Regions from separate parts of the Homo sapiens genome. Here all the other regions are linked to region 2. The links come from fine-mapping of genetic effects on gene expression. A gene starts in region 2. Each other region holds a variant in brackets. All regions are shown on one strand. Distances are from middle to middle. Region 1 holds the start of LOC105376380 (a long non-coding RNA gene). Region 2 holds the start of NET1 (neuroepithelial cell transforming 1). Region 3 overlaps LASTR (lncRNA associated with SART3 regulation of splicing).

Evidence for each region. PIP is the estimated chance that this variant, and not a neighbour inherited with it, causes the effect. A credible set is the group of variants that fine-mapping cannot tell apart.
Region 1: its variant is the best candidate, but not a certain one, in a credible set for the expression of NET1 in whole blood (INTERVAL, PIP 0.72).
Region 3: its variant is the best candidate, but not a certain one, in a credible set for the expression of NET1 in whole blood (INTERVAL, PIP 0.70).

What each region holds. Positions count from the first base shown.
Region 1 is chr10:5,551,185-5,555,419 of GRCh38, reverse strand. LOC105376380 (a long non-coding RNA gene) reads left to right here and starts at 3,343. Exons shown (of 4, transcript XR_930611.3): 1 at 3,343-3,390. RefSeq lists enhancers at 873-1,395, 1,396-1,919. The variant A/G (reference allele first, on the strand shown) is at 2,090.
Region 2 is chr10:5,410,065-5,414,299 of GRCh38, reverse strand. NET1 (neuroepithelial cell transforming 1) reads right to left here and starts at 1,743. Exons shown (of 12, transcript NM_001047160.3): 1 at 1,480-1,743. The coding sequence starts at 1,607. RefSeq lists a silencer at 1,402-1,831.
Region 3 is chr10:5,590,792-5,595,026 of GRCh38, reverse strand. LASTR (lncRNA associated with SART3 regulation of splicing) reads left to right here. Exons shown (of 2, transcript NR_134491.1): 2 at 1-43. Among named protein-coding and RNA genes, the nearest start is that of LASTR, 3.2 kb to the left of the region's middle. The variant C/T (reference allele first, on the strand shown) is at 1,841.

The sequences.
Region 1 (4,235 bases), 140 kb before region 2:
CACAGCGCAGCACGGAGCGTTTTCTGAGAAAGGCCGGGGGGTCCGGAGTGTGAAAGGACACCTCAGGGCTGGGGCATGGCAGGGAAGGCTCTGGGTGCTGAGTGCTTGCAGTCCAGGGGGCTTCGGAGCTGCTGAGAGAGGACGAGCCTTGGGTGCTTGACAGTTCTGCGGACAGTTCAGAGGCTGCAAACGCTTCCTGACTCCCCAGGACTGGTATTCTAAACTTGGAACTCGCAGTGCGCTCTTGGCGGGCTTCAGAAAGTTCACGAACACCCTGAACTTGTACCAAAACATTATGTGCATGGGCGTTTCTCTGGAACCGCGGTCCAGGGCGAGGGAAGTTTGTGATAATTGCATTTTTGAAGGAGCAAAGGACCCCTGCTGGGGTACGTCACATGGGGACCCAGGGCCCATCCTGTCTGGCCCTTTTCTCTCCACTTCAGCAGGAAAACACACACACACACACACACACACACACGAGTCTTCAAACTTGGAATAGTGATTGCACTGCTAGAATGCTTATTTGTGTGTGCAGGTGTAGCTTTAGAGATGGAGGCAGGGAGAAGGACTATGCATTCTGAGAGAGGGAGGGATTGAGAGAGAGAGAGAGAGTGTGTGTGTGTGTGTGTGTGTGTGTGTGTGTGTGTGTATGTCAGCAGGAATCTGAAAGTACAGCTTGGTGACTGTAAGGGCTGGAGGTGTCGGTGTTTTCTTGCCTGTTCCTTCTCTCTGAACAGAGCTCTCTGTTTGGAAGACCTGTCTTAGCTGTTCCTTCAAAAGTTCTGTGTGTTCTCCTCTGATCTGAGCTGACTTTCGGGGCATGGCTCCAATGGTTTGCCAGCAACTTAGGCCAACGGCAACAGCGGAAACCGAGACAGCTCTGCAAAAATATTTGTTTAATTAGCAGAAACGATCTGTGATCAGAATCCATGTTTAACGACCTGGCTTACAGCCAAGCTCAACACATTTTCCTTCAGGACTGTTTTTGGTGTTGAACTGAGCAAATTCAGCTCTGACCTTCATCCTGGCTGGGGGAGGGGAGACGCCCCACCCTGCTCAGACCCTGGGCTTTTTATTGAAAGGCAGTGCCAGGCACACTCTGATGGGTCTTGGGGGAGACCAAGGGTGCCCTGCTCAATGTCAGCCCTGACTCTGTGCCACGTGCACTCAGCTCTGCCACGGAGGTGCATGGCTCTGTAGACGTGGACGGTGAGCTGGGGAGGAAGGTGGTCTTGGAGAGAAATGCCCCATGGGGAGCTGAGACCTGTGTGTCATGGGATCATCCTGGATTTGGCTTAAAATCCACGTGGCTGTGGAAATCCCAGGGTGCACCGAGGATCTGTGGGGGAGCAGGGGTAAGTCCAGGTGAACCTCGAGCTGTTCTCAGCCCTGAGGTTTGGGTCACTCCGAGAGCACTTGGGTCTCTGCCGAACGGCACAGATCATTCTCAGGCCCTTACAACCATCCGGGTCACTCTAGAATTCCTTTTAGGACTCCTGGGCTGGGCTGTGGCTATTCAGGACTCTGGGTAAGAGCCCTTGGAGTCACCTGGGAGGTAGAATCGCCATTTTCTAGCAGCCATCTTGAATGGCAGATTCCCTGCAGTTCAAGCTGGGGCTGCCCAAGGGGTTCTGGGGGGTCCTGGGTGCCTTCCAGTTGCCCCTCCAGGTGCACCCCCTCCTCCCCCAGGACACTGACCGGCGGGGGCCATCGTGGGGGACCTTGTGCTCTCTGGCTCTGGCTGGCTCAGCCAGTGGGAGCCTGTGGGGCTGGGAGGGAGGAGGGTGTGATGAGGCATCTCCTTCCCGCTGGGCTCCTCCCCACCTCTTTCCTCCTTTTCCAAGTCCCCTGACCATCCCTCCCCTATCTCTCCAGGTCTCTTAAATTACCACGGTGCCAGCTACATGGCCCGGGTGGGTGGTTCCCCACACTGCCTACCCCTTCATACCTCGCCCCATTACACCCTCCTGGAATCATTCTCACTGGAGGCTGCACCGTTTCCTGCTGCCCACGATGAACAAAGCAGGAAACTGTCTTTTCCAGACTTCCCCACGAAGTGAGGTTTTGACGACCTCATTCTCCAAGAGCA[A/G]ACCCAGCCCCTGGAGTCCGTTCTTTCCCTGCGCGCGTGGACACCCCTGCAGCAGTGGCTCCTTTTGGTGGCCGCTCTTCAGACACGTGCTAGAGAGCAATCATTGATGACAACGTTTTCTTTCAAAAGGCCCAGAAAACAAAATTAAATCTTGGGACTCGAAGCTTCCTGGGCCTGTGCCACGAAGGCCCATGCTTAGCCGGTCTGGTGCCAGGCTCTGTGACGTGTGGAAACCAGGCCCACCGACCACACAGCAGTGGCTGAGGATGGCTCCCTCCTCGGCTACTCTCTGAAATGGTAGAGGCCACTCTCATGGCTGAGTGGTCTCCGCCGTTCTGCAGAGGTGTGGATAAGAACAGGAGTTCCTGCTTGTCTCCTAGGGGTCCGTATTGAACGTTGGCAATCAGTGGAAATCCTGTCTCAGGCCCTCTCGGGGCCCCACACTGATCATTGTATTTAAATCCTCCCAGTGTCCTGCAGACACCTACCTCCCAGACCAAAGAGGGACCTTGCTGGTGGCCAGGAAACAAGCTGAAGCACAGAGAGGAGAGAAAGAGACAGAGTTGGGTCCTCGGGTCACCTTAAAAGGCTGTGAGACTTTTTGCCAGGGCAGGGCCTGGCGGGTGGTGGAGATGCAGGATGAAGGACTTAAGGAGGGATCTTTTACTTTCAGTGTGAAAGTGACCTGTGTTTTTATGAGGGGGCTAGAGAAATACTCAGAATCTGAGAGCAGGCAGTTGGAGTGGGATCTCAGCAAACTTCCGTGTCTGCATGGTCCTGCAACCATCGCCCTGGACAGAGGTCTCAGCTGGGTAGAGATGGACGGTTGTCAGGGCACAGCCTGTCCTTAGGGGGTGCTAGGAATGGGGATTGGGGTGAAGAGGAGTTCAGGAAAGAGGGGTGAGGCATGGGGAACCTGCTGGCTTAGAGGATGCAAAGGGGCAGGTTTTATGGACGCTTTATGCAGGTCCCTTTCATAAAGATACTTGCCCAGCCTGAGCAGAAACCCACACCCTAGAGTTTGTTTCTTCCCTGTGGGCACCCCCCGCCCCCGCAGCAGCGGCTTCTTTCAGTGGCAGAGGCTGACTCTTTTTGCAGCTTCTCCAGCACTTGCAAATGCAACTTCCTTGCACCCACTTCAGACACTTTACAGCTGGAACCCCTTCCTTCAAGGTTAGGGGCCCAGGCCCACAGCCCCTACCTCCAAGTTTCCACGTTTGAAGAATCCCAACCTTTTCCCTTTGCCTCCTCAGCCTCAGGGGTGACACCTCAGAGCTCCTGTTTACCTCTTTAGCCACCAGGTTAGTAATTTTACACCCATGCAAGTGTGTACAGGAATCTTCCGGATCCAAGTGGCTGGTGTGGGCGTTGTCTTCTGTCTGAACCCTGGCCCTTGTCTGTGCAGATTCCTCCCCTCCTGTCCGGGAGAGAAGAGACAGTTTCGATGTCATGTGGAGACAGGAGGCTGTGGTCAACGAGGGGAGGCTGTGGTCAACGAGGGGAGGCTGTGGTGGGGGGTGGCGTTCTGAGTCACTTGGCTGGCTTGGGAATGTGAGCTGGGCCAGGTGCACCTTAGAGAGCCTGGGTGGTGCTGGGGACCTTCAGGCTCTGGAGTCCTGGGTGACCCTGACAGGTGCATGTACCCACATCTCCTTGGCCCCTGTCTCTGTTGCTAATGTCCCTGCACAGACCCCCCCCAGCCGTCATTTACAGATTCCCAGCAGTGAAGCACACGGGCTTAGGTTAAAATCACTGAGCCCCTTGCACAGCGGCCTTCTGGTCCCCTCTGCTGTAAGGCAGGACCACCTGTCAGCCCCTGTCTTCTGGGGACCCCACTAGGCCTAAGAGATGAGGCTGTGGGGTTCTGTCTTCTGGAGGCCCCACTAGGCCTAAGAGATGAGGCCGGCGGCGGAGGTCTGGCCTGGAAGAGAAATGTGGTGAGTCACCCCAGGCCTGACAGATTCACTCAGACCTGGTCCTTCTGCTCCTAGGCTGAGCCATCTCTCAGGGACCCTCCTGCCCTCCTTCACCTCTCACCTGGCCTGCCCCAACCAGTTCTCCAGGCAAGCCCAAACCAGTTCCACCTGGTTTGTGACTGTGTTTGGAAAGAGGGTCTTTGCCGAGGTAATTAAGTTAAAATGAGGTC
Region 2 (4,235 bases):
TTCCCCATTACCATGAAGATAAAACCCAAACTCTGTCAAGGCATACAAGGTCTCTTCATGATGTGGCGCTTACCTCTTTAGCATCATCTCTCATGACTACCTCCTCCTTCTCCCCATATTGGTTTCCTCTCCTCTATACAAATATCACTGTTAATATAGTAATAAAATAGAATATATACCCAGAACTCATCAGACTCATTTGCTTCAGGGCCTTTCTACATGCTTCTCTGCCTGAAATCATCCATTTACATCTGCTCTCTAAACTGGTCCTTAAAGACTCAGGGATTACAATAGGAAATCATTTCCTATTCTCTCCAGTCAGGATTAAGTGTTCCTTTTAATCTACGGCATTCTGTGTATATCACTATAATAACTTTTATCACATATTATAATAATTATTAACCTACTTATCTTTCTTCCCCACTAGATTATAAATCTTAAATAGTAACAAGAGTATTTTTCCATTTCCATATTCCTAGTGTTGGCACTCACATTATTTTCTGAACAAATCGCACATTCTCTTCTCAACCTGTTGCAAAACACTCTAAGTTCGATATTGTAACCATTCTTGGAAACCATCTAAGATCAATACTCTCTTCTCATTACCAAATTTAATTTTCATTCCTCATCTAGCTTAATCCTCATCTTATTTTACTTAATCCTCATTTTATTTGACCTATCAATAACATCTGACATAGCTCGCCACGTCCTCTTCTTGAAATTCTTTCTTCATTTGGCCTCCTGGATACTGTTCTCACTTGGTTCCCTTCCTCCTAATTCACTAGCTATCCCCTGAGCTTCGCTTTGTGAAATTTCACTGAGCCAAACACGAGTCATACACTCTCATTTCAATGTATACTTCCACAAAAAGTAAAAAGAAAAAACACGAAAATGGTTGTGATGAACTCTCTAATAGGCATCTCATAACATATCCCGAAGTCAACTTATCCCTTAGTCTTTTCTTTCTCAGGACATGGAAGCCCATTCTCGTGGTGCTCACCATGACAGTTTCGGTCTGAGCAAAGGCATTTGGGAACGCCAGCCTACAGCCAGTTGGGTGTGCAGAACAAAACCATTGTGGTTTTTCCTAAGTCTCCCCTGAGAAACAGTCAGGAGGCGAGGAGACTCAATAAACCCGCCCCTTTGCCACAGGCAGGGAAAATCGCAGTTTGGGGTCTCAGGACCGACCTCGGTCCAAGGCCAGGCACACTGTCACTCCAGCCTGTGCCACCCTCACTTCCAGCGGCCCCCGTCCCCCCCCCCAACCCCGCGGTCACCTCCCCCACCCCCCACTCACCTCCCAGCGGCCCTCGCCTCCCCCTGGCCCTCACCAACACCCCCACTCGCCGCCCCCCACATCCAACTCCCGGCCAGCCCTCCCCTCCCCCCGGCCCTTGCCTCTCCAACACTCACCTCCCGTTCGGCCCTCCGCTCCCCTACACTCACCTCCCGTTCGGCCCTCCCCTCCCCCACACTCACCTCCCGTCCAGCTCCGACCCGGAGGTGTCGGCCGAAGGCCCCGTCGCTCCCTCCGTGCTGAGCCCAGAGGCCCGGCGGCTTCGCCTCCGCGGTCGAGGCTGCTTCTGAGCCGCCAGCTCGGGCTCCATGGCACGGAGGAGGGGGTGGGGCGGTGGCCGGGTGCCCGGGAGACCGGCAGGGACGGGCACGATGCCCGCCAGCCTCTGCCAGGCAGAAAGCGCCTGTCAGCGGACTGCAGCCGCCACCGCCGTCATCCGGGGATTTGAAAATGGCGGCTGAGCAGCGATCAGCCAATCAGTGAGCGCGCAGCGGTTCCTAGGAGACGTGGAGTCCCGCCCCTCCACCGCTCCCGGGATCTACTTGCCTAGGAAAGAACCTAGGAAAATTTGCCCTTAACTCCTGAGCGCATCCCTGAGTCCCTAAGGCCCGGTACCTCCTTCATTGTTCATTAGGACTTTCACTACAGGCCAAGGCAAATGGACTGGAAGCATTTTAATTCACCAGATCTTTCTTAGCATTTGAGGAGAAGAGAGGTCCAAACTAATGACCTGTAAACAAGGCATGTTTATTGGCCATATTCACACTGAATTATTGTGCACGTGGCCAATATGAGATATATTTCCAATTACCAAAGGTTATGCAAGTGTGTTCCCGGGACTGTCTCTAGGGAACCAGCAAAATCTAATTATGAGCCCTTATGTCTTCCAATAAGCATGACACAGTCTCTCCCTAGCAAAACAGAATGAAGTGACTTCATCCTTTGCTTGTAAAAGTCAGCAAAAGACATAATATAAAATAAAAGACCGCTTCAAGTAAAAAAAAAATTGTTAAACAAATTACACTTTCTTTGATTTTAAATATTGCTTTATATGTGTCAAAGTCTTTAAAAATAGCTTCTCCTGACCGGGCGCTGTGGCTCACGCCTGTAATCCCAGCACTTTGGGAGGCTGAGGCAGGCGGATCACGAGATCAGGAGATCAAGACCATCCTGGCCAACATGGTGAAACCCTGTCGCTACTAAAATACAAAACTTAGCTGGGCAGAGTGGCGCATGCCTGTAATCCCAGCTACTCAGGAGGCTGAGGCAGGAGAATTAGTTGAACCAGAGAGTCGGAGCTTGAATTGAGCCAAGACCGTGCCACTGCACTCCAGCCCAGTGACAGAGCGAGACTCCGTCTCCAAAAAAAAAAAAACAAAAAAACACTTCTCTTTTGCCAGTATATTTCCACTTATGGAAATTTATCCTAAAAAATAAAATTATATAAACATGAAGCTATTAATGACATTGTTTATAATAGAAACATTTAAAACAACCTAAATAAACAATGATTTATAGCTCATCCACTGAGAAGAATATTTTCAGCCAACAAAAATGAAGTGTGAAGTATGTAATAGTATACTGGTAATTTGAAATAAAAACATGAAGTATAGAGGTATATTCAGTATATTCAAAGTTATGAATTACAAGAGATTATACAAAGAAAAAAGATAATGTATTAAAATGTATTAAATGTATTAAAAAGTCAATGTATTAAAATGTCTCTAGGTAGACTTTAGGTATTCAAAATTTTTATTTTTATTTTTTGCATTTAATTTTTTTAAAAATAAGGACATATTGAATTTGCAGTACCTTTATAACATGAGGGAAAAATGTTTTTGTTTTAAAAAGAGTAAGAAATTAGGGAGTAACATTGAGATGTGAAGCCAGCTAGACTTCCTGGGTAGAGTGGGGACTTGGAGAACTTTTCTGTCTGGCAAGAGGATTGTAAAACACACCAATCAGTGCTCTGTAGCTAGCAAGAGGATTGTAAAATGCACCAATCAGTGCTCTGTAAAAAGCACCAATCAGCAGGACCCTAAAAGTAGCCAATCACAGGGAGGATTGAAAAAAGGGCACTCTGATAGGACAAAAATGGAACATGGGAGGGCACATATAAGGGAATAAAACCTGGCCACCCCAGCCAGCAGGGCAACCCACTGGGGTCCCCTTCCACACTGTGGAAGCTTTAGTTCTTTCACTCTTTACAATAAATCTTGCTGCTGCTCACTCTTTAGGTCTGTGCCACCTTTAAGAGCTGTAACACTCACCATGAAGGTCCATGGCTTCATTCTTGAAGTCAGCGAGACCATGAACCCACCGGAAGGAACCAGCTCTGAACATAAGTTGACCTTGGTCAAGAACCACTTCTGTTCTACCTTCCCCATCCCTCCCCAAAAATTAAAGAAGAAAGTACTGCTTTGTAGCAGTTAGAGTGTAAGAATACAGAAATGTTCTTAATATTTGGGGAGTTGGTCTCCACCAAGACAGAGCTTCAGAGGATGCAGATGTTTAGATTATGAACAAAAATAAACCTGTAAGAGCAATTCTTCAAGTCAGGTCCCAAGTAGGTCACAACTACTCTGTGTCCAGAAAACTCACACCCCTTTGGGATTTTCACAATTTACCCGAATTGACCAATCAGGGCTCACCTGATGTAACCGATCAGAACTCATCTGCTTTATCCAATCAGGGTTCAGCTGTATTACCCAATCTGAACTGAGCAAGTCTGAATCTTTCCTTTGCATAAACACATCTGATTGGAAACCTGGACAAGAACTTTTTCTATAGAAGCCAAACCCTCCCCTTTATTCTCTGGAATCACCTTTCTTTTACTCCGAAGGCTGTGTCTCCCTGGTTTGCAAACTGTTCACTAGAATAAAGTCTCCTTTCTCCAAACTTCCTTTTCAGAGAACTTTTGTTCACAAGATAGGACCAT
Region 3 (4,235 bases), 180 kb before region 2:
GCAATAAAAATGAATCCCTTATGGTGGTCTGCAGCAACGCAAATGGATCCAGTGTCTGGCTTTAATGGGAGTGGGGAAATTGCTAACAGATGACGGTAACTTTCAGAGACAGACAGACACAGAGAGAGAGAGAGAGACTCTGGCCTTCCAGCTGAAACCACTTCTGATGGCAGCTCTTCCTCCCACATGTGCCTCACAGACGTCGAATATTTACGGGATGCCCTGAGCCCAGCCCTGCTCAGGGTTTAACAGCAGGGGCCATGTGTGTGTGACGGCTGAGGTCACGCAGTCGTTCATTTCAAGCTGTAGAGACATTTGGTTTTAAAAACCCCAGTGCCTCCACTGGGATTGGCTTTCGGAGAAGAAAAACAGCTCCTGAGTTCTTTTCCTGTCCAAGCCCGGGTGGGATCATGCTGCATTGCCAGCCTCCATTAACCCTTTGGGGCTGAGAAAGTTCTTAAACCTTGTGACTTTCTCCCGGTGATTTTTGCCTTTTTGAGGAAGCTGTGTGAGCTGCAGTGATTTCCTGTGAGCTCAATGAAAATGTGTCTGATGTGTATGCACCTGAGCTAGAAAGCCCAAAGACTGCTAAGAAGCCATGTGAGGGCTCAGAAACAAACATGTTGGGGCTTCGAAAGCCTGTTTTTGGAACCACTTTCCCTGTCTGCAAGGCAGAGGGAGGGAGGTACTCTGTTATTTCTAAGTCTCTCTTGAGCTCTTACACTGTGCAAGCCCATGAACGTATTTAATCGTGCATTAGACAATTGTTTTTAATCTATGCCCTGCCTCTCCCAAGATCAACCTTTCCCTGAGATCGGGGCCCCCTCTGGGTGCACAGGGATATTTTTATTTTTTGAGTTGGAGTTTTGCTCTTGTCACCCAGGCTGGAGTGCAATGGCATGATCTTGACTCACTGAAACCTCTTCCTCCCGGCTTCCAGTGATTCTTCTGCCTCAGCCTCCCAAGCAGCTGAGATTACAGGCATGCACCACCACACTCGGTTAATTTTTGTATTTTTAGGAGAGATGGAGATTCACCATGTTGGCCAGGCTGGTCTTGAACTCCTGACCTCAGGTGATCCTCCCGCCTTGGCCTCCCAAAATGCTGGCATTATAGGCGTGAGGCACCGTGCCCAGCCCATAGGGATATTTTTATATACTTTCCTGCCCCATGGGTCAACTGTTCTTGAACCAAAGAAACAAGAGGCGGGGAAGTTATAGGAAGCTTTTAAAATATGCTTCTGTGCAGCACTGCTCGCAGCGTGTCACAGATGTGCGGTATTGGAAGACGAAGGTGAAACTGCATGGAGATGATTGTGTGGGGGATGAGGAGGTGGTGGGTAGGGGACTTGGCTTTCTTCACACAAAGACATCCAGGCAAATGGTAAGTCCAAAAGCCGTGTGACAGATAATGGCCATTGTTCCTGCAGGGTGACTCTTTTCTTTTCTTTTTTTTCTTTTTGAGGCGGAGTCTCACTCTGTCATCTATGCTGGAGTGCAATGGTGCGATCTTGGCTCACTGCAACTTCCGCCTCCCAGGTTCAAAGTATTCTTTTGCCTCAGCCTCCTGAGTAGCTGGGATTACAGGTGCCCACCACCACGCCCAGATAATTTTTGTATTTTTTTTAGTAGAGACAGGGTTTCACCATGTTGGCCAGGCTGCTCTTGAACTCCTGACCTCGTGATCCGCCCGCCTCAGCCTCCCAAAGTGCTGGGATTACAGGCGTGAGCCACCATGCCCGGTGACTCTTTTCAGTCCAAAGAGTCATCATTGTCACTAGACCACCTTTGAACATGGACAGCAACAGCACTATCTAATATTAACTTTCCCTGAATCAATA[C/T]CCTCGTTTGACAAATTATAATTTAACAAAAATATGTTTATGTGTAGAAAAAAGACTAGAAGGATGCAGTGTCTCCGTGGGTGAGAAAACACGTGATTTCTGTTTTATTCTCACTCACTTATATTTTCTAAATTTCCTACTGAAAATGTTAATGAATTATTTAGGTAATGAGAACACAATCTTAATCATGTTTAATTGGTTCATAAGGAACGACAGAGCTTGGCAGCTTCTTGCAGGGTGCTTTCTGCCATCCCCAGCTGAGACACCAGTGGGGCTCGGAAGCTGCCCTCCAATGACAGCTGGTGATGACGGGGACACGGCCAGCTCCCTTCTCCTCCCTCTCCGTTGTGATCCGGGCAATTCCATGTACTCCTTTTCCTAAATCAAGAACACTCTTGATTTCTGGCATTAATACCAGCTCCTGACATAGGACCATGTTGCTCCCTCCTTCAAATCTTTCAGACTTCCCTGCACCGTGGCCCTGAAGGGCCCTCCCCTCCTTCCATGGCACTGAGCTTCCAAAGAGCATGGTGGACACCAGGCCACACTCTTTCTTGTGCTGTCCTCTTAATATTTCAGGTCCATTTGTCGGCCACGCCTCCCCGAACCTTCCCACATACCACCTGAGAGAGAGTGGGAATCATGCCATCTCTTCCATTAATGGTAAAGTTAGTACTAATGGTCTAGCTTGGTGCTTCATGTATATTAAGCTCTGAGAAATAAAGGCAAAATGCAGCTGTGTTTGAACTGCACAGATAGCATCGTGCCTGGATCCTGAGAATCTATAAGATGAAGACTTCAAAGCACGGTGGGCAGTTTGCCAAATATCCGAGGAAGAGAAAGTTTCCGGAAAGCAGGGGTCTAACCCCTAGGAGCAGGCATGCATGGGGGCTGGGTGGGAATCCATGCTGGCCTCCATCACCTGTTCACATGTGTCCCTGGGTGGCCGTGGAGAAGTTGTTGCTGGGTAATGGGGGGCTGGAGGTGCTCCCAGCAGGAAGCCCGACGGGAAGTGCAGGCTAGGGTTTTCCTCGGGTACAGGAGAAAGGGAATGGGAAGGATCTTCTCTGAGGTACAACAGGCAAGAACATGGTCCAAGATCCTGTGACCAGCATTGGTCCAAGCTCAGTCGACATAAGCTCCTAGCAGCGGTGGCATCTGGAGTTTGGAGGTTGTGAGTCCCTGCACCAAGTGGCTCCAGCCTGAGTCTCTGCCACGTTCTAGGGATACATCTGCCAAGGTGTGTGTTTGTGTGTGTGTGTGTGTGTAGTGTGCGCGTGCACGTGCAGAGGCCACACAGAGGCTGGGCTGGGGGCTGATGCAGCCTTCCCTTTGCTGCTAGCCCTGCTCCGGCTCACTCATCTCCCACAGCTGTCAGGAAAGAGAGCAGCAGGTGAAAGCAGGCCCGGCTCCTTGTTCCTGGGGAGGCTTAGCTACACCAGCCACCCCTCTGCCTGCCGTGTGGACCTCCAGCTCAGCATTGTCCCTGCAGGAGGCCAGCCCTTGGGGCACCTGGGCCTGGAAGGCTGAGGTACTGCACCCACCCTTGAGGGTTCCCCGCATCTATGCCAGGAACACTGCCTTGGGCTTCCTGAGGGGCGCCGTGAGATACAGGGACAGATGCGGGCAGCCCTCTGGGAGCTCAACTGGGGCCCTGCGGGCTGTGGGGTCAGAGAGCGCATTCCACCTCTGCAGGCCGCCCTGTCACCCAGCAGGGCAGCCTGCGGCACTTAGTGTCTCTGGTTGGTTTGTCAGCTGCACCTCCCTGAACCTTCCAGCGCGCCACGTGAGAGTGGCAATCACATTCTCTCTTCCCCTTTAAGTTAGCGCTAATGGCCTAGTGTAGTGCTTCATGTATATGAAGCCTCAAAAAGTAAATGCAAAATGCACCTGTGCTTGAACTGCACAGACAGCATCATGCCTGGATCCTGGGAATAAGGATCTTATTATTCCCTGGATCCTGGGAATGATAAGATGAAGACTTCCAAGCATCCTGGGCAAAGCTCGACAGATAGGACAGAGAAAAAGAAAGACATGTGAACACCAGGGCGTAGCCCCCAGGAAGGGACACATGTGCGGGAGAAGGGAGGAGCAGGCGTTAAAGCGGGGCAGCCTGGAGGGCCTGGGTGAGGAGTTGAGTCTGGATGCTGGGGCTGCACTCACCCCGCCAGTCTGAAGGGTTCCTGGGCTTTCTCACCCTCCTGACCCCGCCCTCCCCCTGGCCCCTGGAGCGGGAGGGCTTCTGGCTCTGCTTCCTGCTCGAGTGCCCTCCACTCCATCTCTTTGTCATTGCCTTACTTTTTGGGGTGAGTACGAGGACAGAGTTGTAAGACAGTAGATGAACAGTACAGTGAGGTCTGAGACTAGGGGTGCATTTTGGAGAAGGGAGGCAGTT